Regions from separate parts of the Homo sapiens genome. Here region 1 is linked to region 2. The links come from fine-mapping of genetic effects on gene expression. A gene starts in region 2. The other region holds a variant in brackets. All regions are shown on one strand. Distances are from middle to middle.

Region 1 (4,521 bases), 120 kb after region 2:
AGACTTGACATATCGGCTCTGGGAGAGGGAGTCTCTGCTCCCTGCTCAGAATGAGGGCTTGGGGCTGTTCTCTCTCCCACTGTGTGGAGAGCACCTCCCTGAGTGTGTGTTCCCAGGCACAAGGAACGCAGATGGAGGCATCAAGTCCTCAAGACACAGCATGTCCTCCTGGACCTGGCCAGCTCCACCCTGGCTTCCCAATCCCTCCAGAAACCTCCTCTTTGGCATAGCTGGTTTGAGTTTGGGTTGATCACTTTCAACTGAATGAACCCTGGCCAAAAAAGTCTTGGCCCTTGGGAATCATGAGAATTTAGCCAAGTGACAGGGTCAAGACACTTGGAACAGGAGCCTGGCATTGAGGCAAGCGTTGGTATACATTCTGTGGAGTTCTTTCACCCCAGACAGGCAGGGTAGAGTATTCTGGCTATGAAAGAACACTTCTGAGAGCAGAAACTAAACTTCTTCTGCTCTGCCCTATGCAAATCTACTAAAGACAGACCTTCTCTGTCTGTTACTCAGGGCCATACAGGAAAGAAAATGCAGGCTGGTAGTTCTCACCTGATTCCAGCCCCTTAAGCCTTCCAAGACCACTGCAAGTGACACAGGGAGGAGGTGCCCTAGGCACATGAAAGACCTTGACCATGATGTCTGAAAACCTAAGCCAGGATCTTGGCTCTGCTATCCCAGCTGCATGGCCTTGAGCACGTCTCTGCATCTCCTTGGCCTCAATTTTTCTCATCTGTAAGGTGAGAGGGATGAAATAAATTACTCTCAAAGTTCTTTTCCACATAACATTCAATGGAAGCAGTAGAGCATTATGGTTAAATACGTAGACTCTGGGGCCAGGCTGCCCAAGTTCAGTTCTATTGCTTACTGCAAGCTTAACTTCTGAGCCTCAGTTTCCTCATATTAAAATGGAATACAAAATGATACCTACCTCATGGGGTGGTTATAAGAATTAAATGAATAGAACACATAGAGGGCACAGAAGTAAGCTAGGCATATACTAAGTCCTCAAAAATATTAGCTACTATTATTATTTACCATTATTGAAAGAATTTACCCTGGATCCTGGAATGATTTCTGCTTCATCTGTAAAGGTGACCCCTTCCAAAGGCAGAGCCCTTTTCCCAGGGGTTGCAGCTCCCCCATCTTTGCATGAGCACTGACCATTCTCTCCCTCTCCTGTAGTGTCTGGAGGCAGCAGAGTGCCCTGAGGGCCAGGAGTCAGCTTCCCCACCTCCGGGCTGAAGGCTGGGGCTGGCTTCACTCACTTAATTTGGAGAATTTCCATAGCCCTTTTAGCATATTTTGCTTGGGCTAGCTTATTTTCGCCAACCATACATCTTATCACTGTCATAAATTTTTATTCCTATGGACATGTCTAAACTTATGGGTTGAAATAACGTAATTTACATGCTGTTTAGTATGCAGATTGGGTTAATCTGCTTCTGCAGATTCACCACCAGGCCTGTGTAGCCTCTCTCTCCCTCCAGGACCTCAGCCTGATTTGAATATTGCATTCTGTTTTGTGTGGGGCGGTGAAAGATGTGTGGATCACAAGCCTCCCCTAGACAGCTCCAGCACCCCACTCCCTGCGCCTGCGGTCCACCCTGCACACAGCTCCCCCAGGCAGAGGCCTCCTTCCCACTGCATGTCACTCCCACAGACTCCCCATCTCAAGGCTAAAAAGCCATCAGCAACCAGGTGAGCTCTCTTTTGTCTTAGGCTGCATTCTGAGATGAGGATTTCAATGTGAATGAATCCAGGGGACATTGAACCCAGGAAGCACTGGCAGGTACAGAAGGGAAGAAAGCCAAAACAATGTGTCCTGGAGCAGGTTAACCCTGTGGGCATGTGGGCTCAGTCCCACTGGGGACTCCGGGAGATGGTTTTGAACATGACTCAGAGTTGTCCCATAGAAAGGGTGAAGAAGCCAGGGTCTTTATTCTTTAACTCCTCACCATCATTTGCTGGATCCATGGTCCTTATTCTCTAACTGCTTGCCATCATTTGCTGAGGGCTGTTGGCTGAGGGGTATTAATCCTTGCCCACCGCCCCCGTGCATCTGACCTGCCCCATGTGCAGGCTGAGGAAAGCCTTCAGGAAGGGGTGATAGGTGTTCTCAGAAGGACGTCATTGGCACTTACCTGAATAAA[G/C]AATGACAAGGAGATATGAGTGGGGTGCCCTGTTCATAGCCTCTCTTTCCCATTTTCAGCCTGATTCTCCCTCACTTCACCTAGGCTTTGTATCCATTTCATTTCCTCAAGGAGGCCTTTCCTAACTCCCCTATTTGAGACAATGCCTTCTCATGCTTTATCCTCCTTTACTGCTTGTTTTTCTATCTGTGTGTTTTTTTGTCTGAGTCATTTTAGTGTGGGAAAAGACAGTAAGCAGACAAATATTTAATATATCAGGCAGTCAAGGGCATGACAGAGAAAATTAAAGCAGGAGAAGAAGACTTAGGAATGTCATATGGGGATGGATTGCTATTTTATATGGGACAGAGGCGTGTGTCAAGGTTGTCCTCTCCAATAAGACATCAGTGAGCTGGGAGAGACCTTTAGCAAGTGAAGGAGTGAGCTGTGCAGAAGAGCTTTCCAGGCAGAAGGAACAGCAGGTGCAAAAGTCCCAAGGGGGACATATGTTTGACTCATTTGAGGCTAACATTGTGGGAGCACAGCATTTGAAGGGGAGAGGAAGGAAATGAGGAGGAAGATGGAGAGGAGAAGGAGAGGTAATAGGAGGTCTGATTATATAAGACCCTGGAGGTCTTGGTAAAGACTTTGGATCTGTGTGTTAGTCAGGGTTCTGCAGAGAAACAGAATCAACAGGGTGTATATATAAACAGACTTATTGTAAGGAATTAGCTCATGCAATTATGCGGTTTGACAAGTCCCAAGATCTGCTGTTGGCACCCTAGAGACCCAGGAGACTCAGTGGTGTAGTTCTAGTTTGCATACTGGCAGGCTGGAGACCTGGGAAGAACCAATATTTTAGTTTAAGCCTGAGGGGTGGAAAAAAGCCAGTGTTTCAGCTCAAAGGCAGTCAGGAAGGAGGAGTCCCCCTTACTTGTGGAAGGATCAGCCCTTTTGTTCTAGTCAGCTTTCAACTGATTGGATGAGGCCACCCACACTGAGAAGGGCAATTTGCTTTACTATCAACAGATCCAAATGTTAATGTCATTGAGAAACACCTTGACTGACACACCCAGAATAATGTTTGAGCAAACATCCGGGCTCTCCATGGCTCAGTCAAACTGGCACATCATACTCTGAGTGAGATTGGAAGACACTGTAAGTTTTACAGATAAGTGGTGTAATTTGACTTATGTTTTTAAAAATTACTCTGGCTGCTATGTGAAGAAAAGTCTGCAAGGGGCAAGGGTTAATCAGGGACAATTTTTCAGAAGCTATTGCTATAATTCAGGCAAGTGATGGTGGTGGCTTGGGGCAGGGAGACAGTGGGTGGAGGTGGTGAGAAGTGGTTAGATTCTAGATGTATTTTGAAGGGAAAACCTGCAGGATTCATTGATGGGTTGGAATGTAAAATGTGACAGAAGGAGAGGCATCAAGGATGATACCAACGTTTGGGGCCTGAGTAATCAGAGGGTAGGAGGTTCCATTAATTGAGATGTGGAAGACTGTTGGACCAGCTGGTTTGATCAGGATAAATCAGGTGTTAGGTTTTAAATACGTCAAGTTCAAGATGTCTGTTTATGTTTAAGCAAGAATGTAGAGCAGGCCATGGGATATGTTTGACTGGAATTCAAAACTCTGATGTAGTTTAGTTCAGTTTGGCAATCAATAAGTACTTCTTGGCCAGTCGCATTGCCTCACACCTGTAATCCCAGCATTTTGGGAGGCCAAGGTGGGAGGATCGCTTGAGCCCAGGAGTTCAAGACCAGCCTGGGTGACATCGTGAGACCAGTCTCTACAAAAAAATTTCAAACTTAGCTGGGTATGGTGGCACATGCTTGTAGTCTCAGCTACTCAAGAGGCTGAGGCAGGAGGATCACTTGGGCCTGAGAGGTCAAGGCTGCAGTGGCTGTGCCACTGCACTCTGGCCTGGGCAACAGAGAGAGACCCTGTCTAAAAAAAACAAAAACGTACTTCTTGAGTGAGTGATTATGAGACCAGTCAGATTTGTCCCATGAGTCTCCAATGACCTTCTGCATATCACTAATCCTTGTAGTCCAGAGAGGCCACCTCCAGCAGGTGACATCAGTCTCTGCTCTAGAACTAGGACTCATTAAACTGTTTGCCATGATGCTCTTGCTAATTATTTGACCTGGTAGAGACAGGTAGAATCTAGACAAGTGTCTTTCACTGGCATTGTAAGCTTTTAAAACATTCTATTGCTCCATTCCCAGATTCTGATTCAGTTGATCTGGGGTGAAACTTGTACATTGGTAGTTTCAAAAGATCCTCAAGTAATCCTCTGGATCCTAAAGCCTGTCCAGAGACTGAGAACTATTATTCTAGGGGTCTGCCTTAACTGACCTTCTGTACTTCACTGTTT
Region 2 (4,000 bases):
TATTGTCCATTTAAAAAATTATAGCCATGCTAGTGGATATAAAGTGATGTGTCATTCTGGTTTTGATTTGCATTACCCTAATGACTGATGATGTTGAACAACTTTTCATGTGCACGTTGGCTATGTGTATATTTTATTTGAAAAAATGTTTATTCAAATTCTTTGCCCTTATTTAATTGGCTTGTCTTTTTACTTTCTTTGTTATTATTATTATTTTAGAGATGGGGTCTTTCTGTGTTGCCTAGGCTGGCCTTGAACTCCTGGGCTCAAGTGATCCTTCTGCCTCAGCCTCCTGAGTAGCTGGGATTATGGGTGCTGGCTTATTTTTTCACTTTCTTGATAGTGTACTTTGAAGCACAAAATTTTTAGTTTTGATGAAGTCCAATTTATATATTTGTTTCTTTTGTTGCTTATGACCATCTGCTTTTTAAATTAAACTCAGAAATCCTAAAGCTTTTCCATTAAGCACAACAAATAATAAAACTATATATCTTAATTCCATGTTGTAGCAATTTAAGGGGGTGGAATTGACGTCAGGGAGAGGGAGAAGGTGGGGGTAGACTCTTTACTTGGACTTTAGACCTCAAAGTCTGAATGTTAGCAACTGCCTTTGAGCATTGAGCACATAATCATCAAGGATAACTAACTCTTTGGAAACTGCCTTAATCACTAAACCTTCAGTAGCTTTCTTCTGGAAGGGGTGAAGCCCCTGCTACCAAGAAGGAGCTCACTCTCTGCACTGCAGCAATGTTACCTAAGGACAAGTGAAAATGAAGATAAAGTGTCAGAAAAAGGGAAAGCTTTGCAGTCAGGCTGTTAGGAGTCTCCACTGGGTTCTCTGGAACTAGATGCTGCAACAGAGGTAGAAGTGCAAAGGGGAGGATCACCTGTGAGTGGAAAAGGGAGGAAGCAGTTTGGCCAGGAGGAGCTCTTGGCTTCTGATGCAGACTTGACAAAGCCTCTGCCAGTCTAACAGGGTGCTCTGAGCAAAAATTGCTTGTTAGAGGAGTTCCGCATTGGTAGAAGAGGGATGGGCCTTTGTACTACCACCTTGCTCAGCCATTGGCTAGGGGCTGCCTTAAGAAGAGAGTGACTGTGGCTTAAAAACTCAGGTGGTCCTTGAAGGAACTAATTGCTGGGGGCAAATAAAACCAACATTCTTGGTAGCAGGGGAGTGAGTCCTTTATTGAAGGGGCAATGTAAGCATGGCATCTCTGTGTCTGTCTACCACACAGACAAACATGAAGTTCAAATTCCAACAACATGTGACCTTAGGCAACCACTCTGCCTCAGTTTTTTCATCTGTAAAATGGAGAAAATGCTTTCCTTACAGGGTTGTGGGAGGATTAAATAAGACAAGAATGAACATAGTGCCTGATACAGCACAGGCATTCAATAAGTATTAGTTCTTCCCTTTCCCCCAGATGAAAATAAGCCAAGGGAACATTCTGTTCTGCAAACCAGTTCCCACCCTGCTCTTTCTAAACTTCATTTTCTTTCAATTTCCAGTAGGGGACCAAGCCTCTGCGGCAGTTTCCTGATCTTCTGGATATGCTGCCACGCTGTCCCAGGGCTGGTGGTGTCCCCTGACTTGTTCCTCTCCTGACTTTCTCAGCCTGGAGACTGAAAGCTCTCTTTGGCTGTTGGCCCTCCCAGGCAGAGTCCACTGGCTGTTAGGGTGAAATGGGGCTGATGCTTCCTGGAATCCACCAGAAGTATGCAAATTGCACCATCTCTTTCAGCTGCCTGCGCCTGCATTCCATCGAGGATTCCGGTAAGAAGAAACCATCCTGTTCCTCTTTCTAAGTGCCTCATTAAAGCTGGAGGACAAATTCCTCCTGCTTCTCTTGCCCTGGGAGGTGAGACAGCACCTGAATGGGAAGAGGAGGTTGTGCTCCGCGTGACATCATCCTTCATGGGGTACTCTGACCACAGGGACACTGGTGTCCAAGGCCCAGGTACTTCCTGTGTGCCTGATTCACTGGGGAGTCTCAACTCGTTGGGGTATAAACATGAAAAGATTTTATTTCTTCCAGTAACTGCCCTGGCTGTGCTGTGCCAGATCTCTCTTTCCTGCTGAGGAGCCGCTCCCTTAACGACATCTTGGTCTGGTTCCATAACTTTTCAGCCACTTTCGGTTACTATAACAGTCTCATTCCAGTAATTAAGACTCAGCCTCTTATATTTTTAAAACTTTCATTGCAAACTCGATTCAGAGCTCTTCTCTCCCCTTCCCTCCAGCACAAGTGAGAGTTGGGTCCTGGTTGTTTGGAGCAGTGGAGGGGAAGTAGGGCCTGGCTTGAAGATGCCTCACCTCCTCCCTCTTTGAGGCCTCAGCATCTGTATTTGGGCAGAGAGGAGGGATGGAGAGTAAGAGACCTCTTTACAGGAGTGTCCTTTTCCCCTTCCTGTTCTTTGTGGCTCTGTTAGATGCTGAAGATCTCACCCCACCCTCCTCCATCACTGAACACCACCCTTTCCCCCTCCTTCCCTCACACAGATGCACCTCTCTTTAGCCTCAACAGTGGTACAGGTGCCCAACGACCCTTTGTTGACTTGGCCATGGGTACCTGGGCAAACCCTCAGCTCCTGCCCTTCCACTGACTTCCGTGCATCTCCATGCAGAGCCACAGGGCCTGCAGGAATCCTCTCCCATAATCCTTCAAGGGCCCCACAGACCTGGGAAGGGAGAGCTGCCCCCATCTTCTTCCCAGTCATGCTGCCCCAGGGTCCTTCGAGCCCTGCCGGATGGGCTACTGTAGTGGGCCTCTTGCTTTCAGAATCTCCCAGACTCAGATGGATACCAGTCTCTACATTCAAGTGCAGTCCCAGCCCTCAAAGTAAGTTCATCAGGCATCCTGCTTTTCCTTCCCACAGTGGGGTAGGTGAACAACAAGGGCACTGGGCTGCAGTCCTAGGCTTCCAGGATGGCAAGGACTCTGACAGTGAGCTGTGCCTCTGAGGCATCAGGGAGAGTCTGGATTCCCTCTCCCCTCACACTGGGGCAGGAAAGCACCCTTATCATCTCCACAGGGGCGTGAAGGGTGACTCTTCCTTGATCTCTCTCAGTCCTGCTCCTGACTGGACGTGGGCTGGGTGCCGGTCCATTTAGAGGGTGCTGGTGCCTTGAACAGCAGTGTGTGGAGGTGGCTGGCTCCATCTGCTGGCGGCTTGCTGGTAATTCTGTGGGGTTGCTTGGCTCCTCTTGGCTGTGGGTCTAGCATAATGGGGACACACGCTAGGACATGCACAGCTGCAGGCAGTGCTATCCTGTCTCTTCTCTTTTAACCTGTGTTGAAGTTGTCCTTCCTCCTGAAAGGATTTCTTGATTAATTCCCACCATTTGACATGCTCCTTCACTGCACAACCTCAGCGCTGAGACTCTCAATTGGTAGTAAGTTCATGTGCCCGCAAGTGAAATGTCTCTTGAGTAGTTTTCATGTGTTTTGAGGATAGTTAGTGTTTATTGAGCTCTTCCATGTGCCATCTACTGTCCCAAGCACGTCACATACTTCATCTCATCTCCTCACACCACAATCCAATGAGCTAGGTACCGTCACTGTCCCCATTTTACAGATGAGAAAACTGAGATAGAAATGTTAAATAGCATCTCTAAGGTTTATAGTCAGAAAGTGATGTAAAGAGGCACGCTGAACTCGGAGCTTCTACTCTCTACCGATACTCTGTTCTGCCTACTTGGTTTCATACTGTGATCCCTCTGCCTCCTCACCTCTCCTCATCCCTTACCCTGAAAGCCTTAAATAAGTATATGTGGTTCACAGTGAAGTACTCCCCATAATATTTTTTTGTTTAGACTAACGGAATCTTCCCATTTGGGGCTTGTGCAAGAGCTGAACTAGCCCTGGTGAGATTGTGGTCAACTTACAAATGGGCCAAGCTGTGTGGTCATGTTGAAGTCATTAGCACAGAGCCTTTGGACACAAGGACAAATCCTGCTCTAACATTTTAGATTAATTTTTTCCCAGGGAGGCCTAGAATC

Direction of the effects. Positions count from the first base shown, and alleles are read on the strand shown. Sizes are in standard deviations (SD) of each study's normalised expression.
For the expression in subcutaneous fat of the gene that starts at base 1,529 in region 2, allele C in region 1 goes with a higher level than allele G (small effect, 0.23 SD a copy in GTEx).

The links. PIP is the estimated chance that this variant, and not a neighbour inherited with it, causes the effect.
Region 1: its variant is the best candidate, but not a certain one, in a credible set for the expression of LINC02884 in subcutaneous fat (GTEx, PIP 0.50).

Annotation. Positions count from the first base shown.
Region 1 is chr1:112,236,845-112,241,365 of GRCh38, reverse strand. The region is part of intron 1 of LINC02884 (long intergenic non-protein coding RNA 2884); the gene reads left to right. Among named protein-coding and RNA genes, the nearest start is that of LINC02884, 120 kb to the left of the region's middle. The variant G/C (reference allele first, on the strand shown) is at 2,160.
Region 2 is chr1:112,358,136-112,362,135 of GRCh38, reverse strand. It overlaps LINC02884 (long intergenic non-protein coding RNA 2884), which reads left to right and starts at 1,529. Exons shown (of 2, transcript NR_183466.1): 1 at 1,529-1,774.